Linked DNA regions of Homo sapiens. The protein of the gene in region 2 interacts with the protein of the main gene of each other region in a pairwise test. Each region holds a gene or a part of one and is shown on either strand. Other genes may lie near its edges.

Evidence for each region. The genes of interacting proteins can lie anywhere in the genome.
Region 1: the proteins of ELF5 (region 2) and NFE2 interact in a two-hybrid assay, tested with the Homo sapiens proteins (one large-scale study listed by BioGRID and IntAct).

Annotation. Positions count from the first base shown.
Region 1 is NC_000012.12:54,294,669-54,298,022, forward strand, and holds part of NFE2 (transcription factor NF-E2 45 kDa subunit), read right to left. Parts: intron 3,281-3,354; exon of another isoform or gene 3,096-3,280; intron 1,091-3,095; exon of another isoform or gene 876-1,090; intron 637-875; 5' UTR 581-636; coding exon 467-580; intron 186-466; exon of another isoform or gene 82-185; intron 1-81. UniProt on the Homo sapiens protein: Component of the NF-E2 complex essential for regulating erythroid and megakaryocytic maturation and differentiation. Binds to the hypersensitive site 2 (HS2) of the beta-globin control region (LCR).
Region 2 is NC_000011.10:34,507,165-34,510,816, forward strand, and holds part of ELF5 (ETS-related transcription factor Elf-5), read right to left. Parts: intron 1-3,652. UniProt on the Homo sapiens protein: Transcriptionally activator that may play a role in regulating the later stages of keratinocytes terminal differentiation. Isoform 2 binds to DNA sequences containing the consensus nucleotide core sequence GGA[AT].

The DNA of each region.
Region 1 (3,354 bases), on a different chromosome or scaffold from region 2:
CTTTGTCCAAGTAGCAGGAGGAGAGGACCCTGGCATAGTCCGACTCCCCTTCCTGAGGCCCCTGAACTACTGCTCTGTTACCTGGGGTAAACGGGCCCAGTTGCCAAGGGCAGGCGGAGGTAATGAGGGAAGAAGATGGCAGGATCAGAGAGGCAGGTCAGAAGAGAAGAAGGTGAGCACGGGAGGGAGAGCAGGAGGTGGGGTAGAGAGAGATGTGAGTCAAGTGGCTGCTGAGAGAGCCTACACTCCCAATCAGATCATTCCCTCCCCACCACTGCTCCTCCACTCCTCCTCCTCAACGTTCCTCAGTGTCTTCCATCCGGATCTTTCCCTTCCTTTCCCAGTGCCTGGAGCATTACCAGCCCTGAGCCCTGCTTGCTCCTGCCCTCTGCCTCAGTCCTGGCCAACTCCCTGCTTCTCTCTTCTCCGACACACGGCCTCCCCTGCCCTATCCCCCCTTACTCACCTGCAGCTCGGTGATGGACATGATCTCCTGCCAAGTCAGTTCCATCTCTCCTAGCTCTGAAGTGGACAGCTGTATCACCCTGTTCCTGCTCTGCTGGGGAGGACACGGGGACATCCTACTGGGCCAGAGTCTGGTCCAGGTTCCCGGAAAGCCCAGATGGCTCTAGAAACCTGTGTCAAAGGAAAAGAGGTGTTAGAGCTACACCTGCTAGGGTCAGCAAGTTTGCACTACCTCCTTGGAGGGGCTCCCTCCAGCTTCCCCTGAGGGAAGGAGAGACCGCCTCCTCCCCATCCTCACTCATGCTGGATTCATCAATCCCTTAAGATGGAAAGTCTTTTCCTGTGTTGTGATCTCCACCTCGCCAACTATGGCCACAGTCAGTTCCTTTGGTAGCACAGGAGGTCTTTACCTTTTTTCCAGGCAAAATGCCCACTCTTTTCCCTAATACTTTTTACTCCCCCAAACTGTTTTCCTGGCTAAAGGCAGAGTCAGATCTTCTGTTTTTCTGTTTTGCTGTGTTTTGTTTTCCATTTTCTAGGGCAACATCAGGGGTCACCCTGCTTTCCTCCTCTGTCCTCAGTTTTACGTTCTCAGCCTTTTCTTTCCAAGATGATGACAGTATATGCTTGAGGATCCCCAAGAACAAGTTGTGGAAAGAGGCAAGCAGACAGCCCCTCCTCCTCTCCAAGATATGGCCCAGGCCTGGTGGTTGATAGCAGCTCTGCCCTCTCCTCCTATCCTGGCCCTGGGCTCCCCTGCCTGGGCCAGATAAGAGGTTTATCAGTTGCAGGCAGCAGAGGCACAGAAGGAATGGGCTCTGGAGACACTGGACCTCTGTCCTGTGTCCTCACAGGGTCATTTGGGCCATACCTTAACCCATACAATCAGAAGTCTTTCCTCTTCTGAGGTAATATAACCTTAGTAAAGACTTAGTAAGCACTTGTTAAGAACTGTGCTGGTATTGCAAGCTTAGTTTATAAGATTGGTTTTCATCGGGCGCGGTGGCTCAGGCCTGTAATCCCAGCACTTTGGGAGGCCAAGGCAGGTGGATCACCTGAGGTCAGGAGTTCGAGACCAGCCTGGCCAACATGGAAACCCCGTCTCTACTAAAAATACAAAAATTAGCTGGGCGTGGTGGGGTGGCACATGTCTGTAGTCCCAGCTACTCGGGAAGCTGAGGCAGGAGAATCACTTGAACCCAGGAGGTGGAGGCTGCAGAGAGCCGAGATCGCGCCACTGCACTCCAGCCTGGCTGACAGAGTTAGACTATGTCTCAAAAAAAAAAAAAAAAAAAAGACTGGTTTTCACAAAGATTCTAAAGGTACATCAGAAACTGAGACTGAAGCTGATAAATAATAGCAGGATGAGGTCCAGAACCTGACTCTACCTGACTATAATGTCTTCTAGGCACCTTCCCCTCCTGCCCCTGTATCTTCATACTCCAAACCTCTACTGGAAGTCTACATTCATCAGTTCTTTCTGTGGAGTGTCAGTCTCTCTTTCTCCTTCTGGGCAATGTCTCTTTAGAGCCTTGAATATACACTGCCCTCCAGTCCCTTTTCTTTTGACCTGGGTTCTAGTTGCAGCTCTGCCACAAAGCAGCAGTGTGATGTTGGGCAAGCCATCTCACTTCTCTGGGCCTCTGTTTCCTCATTTGTAAAACCAGGGAGTTGGACAAATTGACCTTGGAGGTCCCTTTCTGCTTGGATAGCTTAGAATTCTCAGCAAACCCTCACCCGTGTCTTTATCTTCTTCTGTCAGTCCCTCTCCTCATGCTACCTCCCTATTCCCTGACACCCACCTTCCTTGCATCTGTTTTCCCTGCCGTCAGCAAGAGATTCCAAGTAGATTTGGCAAGGTCTTCCTGATCTCTACGGTCAGACATTGTGTCTATGTGCACGCACACAGACATACCGTGCCATATCAGTATAGGGAAGCAGGCTAGGATGAAGGAAACATGGGAGAGGGGAAGCACTTTGGGAGGCCAAGGTGGAAGGATTGCTTGAGCCCAGGAGTTTGAGATCAGCCTGAGAAACACGGTGAAAACCCATCTCCACTAAAAATGCAGAAATTAGCTAGGCATAATGGCACACATCTGTGGTCCCAGCTACTCAGGAGGCTGAGGTGGGAGGATCACTTGAACCTGAAAGGTCACGGCTGCAGTGAGCCATGATTGTGCCACCGCACTCGAGAGCCTGGGTGACAGAGCAAGACCCTGTCTCAAAAAAAAAAAAAAAAAAAAAAAACGGCCAGGTGCAGTGGCTCACACCTGTAATCCTAGGACTTTGGGAGGCTGAGGCAGGTGGATCACCTGAGGTCAGGAGTTCGAAACCAGCCTGGCCAACATGGTGAAACCCCCATCTCTACTAAAAATACAAGTAATAGCCAGGCTTGGTGGTGGGCGCCTGTAATCCCAGCTACTCAGGAGGCTGAGGCAGGGAGAATTGCTTGAACCCGGGAGGCGGAGGTTGCAGTGAGCTAAGATCGCACCACTGCACTCCAGCCTGGGCGACAGAGTGAGACTCTGTTTCGGAAAAAAAAAAAAAAAAAAAAAAAAAGAAAAGAAAGAAAAAGAAGGACAGAGGATAGGATTGTATGACCTCAAATTGCATGACCTTAGACCACTCACCACAAGGATGGCCCATCACAGCAATTTAATATGGAATCTTCTCTTCGACTTACCACAAAATTAGTAGGAACTACAAATGATCCTTTTGAAAGAGTATCTCCCCTAGCCCTTGCCTCCATCCCCTTGTTTTACTGCCATCCCCAGAGATGGGAGTTGGTGTAGGCAACTCTGCCAGTGGGCAGAGTGGGTGGGGTGTTTATGTCTGTCCAGGATGCCATTTCAACACCGGAACCCCACCCTCCTCCACCCAGGTTCTGGC
Region 2 (3,652 bases):
TATACTATCTCGCCTTCCTAAATCTGTGAAGAATTCAGAATTCTGCAGCATGTGCGGCCCAAGGTTTTGGAGACGAGTGTGGACCTGTGGTAATTGCAACAAGCACTTCACTTTGGGCTTCATGCTGAGTACTTTAGCACTTTAGCTATATTCTTCCTGGTCTGCTCAGAACAACCACTCTGAGATAGGTACTGGCAGCAGTTCCATTTCATAGGTGAGGGATGGAGGCTCTGAGATTCCGGGTAATACATGCAAAGCCAGCGAAGCTGGGTGGTGGCTCAGGTGTGTCTGTTTAAAAAGCCCATTCTAATTGCTGTGCTCCAGTCCCCACACACTTTGGTGGCGGCAAGGAGCTCTGGGGCAGGGTGTGTGGTTGAGGCTGGAAGGAAGGCAGAAAAGAACAGGCCTAGGGCCCCCGCTTGCACACATTCTTGCCTGTGCTGGTCTCAACTTTGCTGCTTCCCATGTTCCCACATGCCACTCTCTACTGAATCCCATCTCCCCGCAATTCAGAAAAAATAATAATCTGTGTTTGGTGGATTAAAACAATCTGTTCACCCGAATTCTTTTTTCTGATTCTTGAAATAATGTTGACATAGAGTAGTTCTTTCCTCGTTTTGCAAAGGGAACATAGCTGCTCAAGATCACACCACTGGTAAGTGTCTTGGGATATTAAACACATGGAATTTTAAGATTGGCAGGAGTGAATTCTTCATCTAGTCCAGTGTTTCCTAAACTTCAGTCATTTGCCTACGACTGTGATAATTTCACTCAATCCATATACTACGAGCACTATTATTTACTTAAAATACTTAAAAAAATCATCAACTCCCTTTTTGTTTTAACATAAATATGCTAATTAAAAGGAAAACTTTATATTAGCAATATAAATGGAAAGTCAGGATTTTTTAAACATACATAAAAATAAATATTTAAGCATTTGAATAAAAATGGTTCATGCGCCACCTAAATCAGGGGTTAGCAAACTACATCCTATAGGCAAAATGCAGTCCCTCACCTATTTTTGTAAAGCCTGCAGTTAAAAATAATTTTACTGCTGGGCGCAGTGGTTTACACCTGTAATCCCAGCACTTTGGGAGGCCGAGGCGGGTGGGTCACTTGAGGTCAGGAGTTCAAGACCAGCCTGGTCAACATGGTGAAACCCCCGTCTCTACTAAAAATACAAACATTAGCTGGGTGTGTTGGTGCATGCCTGCAATCCCAGCTACTCGGGAGAGTGAGACAGGAGAATCGCTTGAACCTGGGAGGCAGAGGTTGCAGTGAACCGAGATTGTGCCACTGCACTCCAGCCTGGGCGACAGAGCAAGACTATGTCTCACAAAAAAATAAAAAATAAAAAATAAAAAATAAAAAAAACTTTACATTTTTAAGTGGTTACATTTTAAGTGGTTATATAAATATTTACATCATATCCTTGATTTTGCCTTTTGGCCTGCTAATCCTAAAATACCTGGCCCTTTAAGAAAAAGTTTGCAACCCCTAACCAGATTCATCTGGCATGTTGCCAGTTGATGTGAGTACCACGTGTTGGAAGATACTGAGTTAGTCCAATTTCCCTCCTCGCCTCCACCATTTTACAGTTGAGGAAGTTGAGACTCAGGGAATTTGTGTAACTAGCTCAAGGTCACATAGCCAGTGGATGCCAGAGTTAAGTGGCAGGGAGGTCCTTAGTTTTCTGACTCTCAGCCCATCTGCTTCTCTTTCTGAAAACACAATTGAGCCCCAAGGCACACTTATATAGCAAATCAAACCTCAGTACTAAGAGGGGCAGGATTGTGTGATTCTGAAACCAAAGGTCAATTCTTTGCAGATGCTTGAAAATCTCCAACCACCATCATCATCACCATCAAATGTGCATGAGACGCCGGGTGCGGTGGTTCATGCCTGTAATCCCAGCACTTTGGAAGGCCAAGGTGGGCAGATCGCTTGAGGTCAGGAGTTCGAGACCAGCCTGGACAACATGGCGAAACCCCGTCTCCACTAAAAACACAACAATTAGCTGGGCATGGTGGTGCACACCTGTAATCCCAGCTACTCAGGAGGTTGAGGCATGAGAATCACGAACCCAGGAGGCAGAGGTTGCAGTGAGCTGAGATCGTGCCACTGCACTCCAGCCTGGGTGACAGAGTGAGACTCTGTCTCGAAAACAACAACAACAACAACAAAAACGTGCATGAGAACTCCTCTCCAGATGTAAATATATAACCGAGTTTGAATTCTGACACTTAGGCACCTTTTCTGGGCCATCACCCAAGAGTTTCCAGACTCTGCTGGGAAGTCTCTTTGCTGATGCCTGGAGAGGGTTAATGTGCTCTGCAGATTATCGTGGGCATGGATCTCCTCCTGGGAGCCCAATCAAACAGATGTCAAGGCTGCCTGGGTTTGGGCTGTGATTTTCCCACGGATTGGCTGGTTTTATATCCTGAGTGAGGGGGGCAGGGAGGGGGTAGGATGCTGAGGGATGGGGTGAGAGGTTATGAGGAAGGGAAGGGCCTCAGGAGCTGAAAGCCACTTCTGCTTTCTGGACTGGACTTCAGAAAAGTTCCTTTAAGTGAGGGCTGAAGACAAATATATCCCTTTTCTTCTGGGCCAGAAGGCTCAGAAAACTAAAGAAGAGGATGGCAGGCCTGTGATATGACCTTCTTTGGGTTGGGAGAAAGGAGAGGTGAATTCCACACGGAAGAAAACAGAAAACAGTCCCCAGGTCTTCAGTGTCAAATAAGGAATCCATCAAATACAAAACACGACAGTGGGAATGAGATCTTCCTCATCTATGCCTCACTAATTGCTCTCAAAAGTCATTGGGTATTAACAAAAAAAAAGGTCATTTGGTAAATTGAATGGCATTATATAAAAACTAGAAATATTTTTTGATCAATAGTATTTTTACCTCTTTTAATATTGTTATTCTTTCTCCTCTTTATACCGGCCTACTCACTTGATCTGTAATCTCTCTAGTGCTATACACAATGCTGTATCTGATTCCCTTTGGTAATTCCTTCTAAGGCAAATTATATCCATTAAGTTTTTGTAAAGGGCCTTCTCAGGTGTACAGCATGCTATTTTTCTTCTGTAATTATTTCTTGCTTTTGGAAAAAATATCTTTTATAAAAGCAGAAAAAGGTGTTTTTTTTTTTTTTTCCTGTTACAGCAGGAGTGGGTGTTATTAACTCTGGGCTCTCCACAAAAGACCTTGGCTACTTAGCCAGCATGCAGTAGGTGTGAGAGTTCAAGAATAATGGCTGCTTTGTATTCAGTAGCCTCTCTTCTCTAGGCCCTCTAAGGTCCTTGCAATAATTGAACATTTTAGCTCTTAAGGACTTCTTTAGTGGAGGTAGAGCAGGATAGGTGTGAAAAGGCAGATGTCCAGAGCCCCCTTTCTCAGAAGTAACACTGAGGCCCAGGGATATGTGAACACAGGCCTGAGGTTAGGCCAGGCCTGCTCAAGGGGGGTGATATTGCCCCCCTCTTTAGGGAACAAAGATGAGTTCTTGGGGATCAAAAAACTGAGTTATTAATTACAGTGTTTTATCATGCTCCAAAGGTCTACAGTAGATGTATAGTTTATCTCTGGTACTCACATTTCTGGTGGGGAGATGATTAAGAAAAAATGACCTAAAAAGTGTCCTTA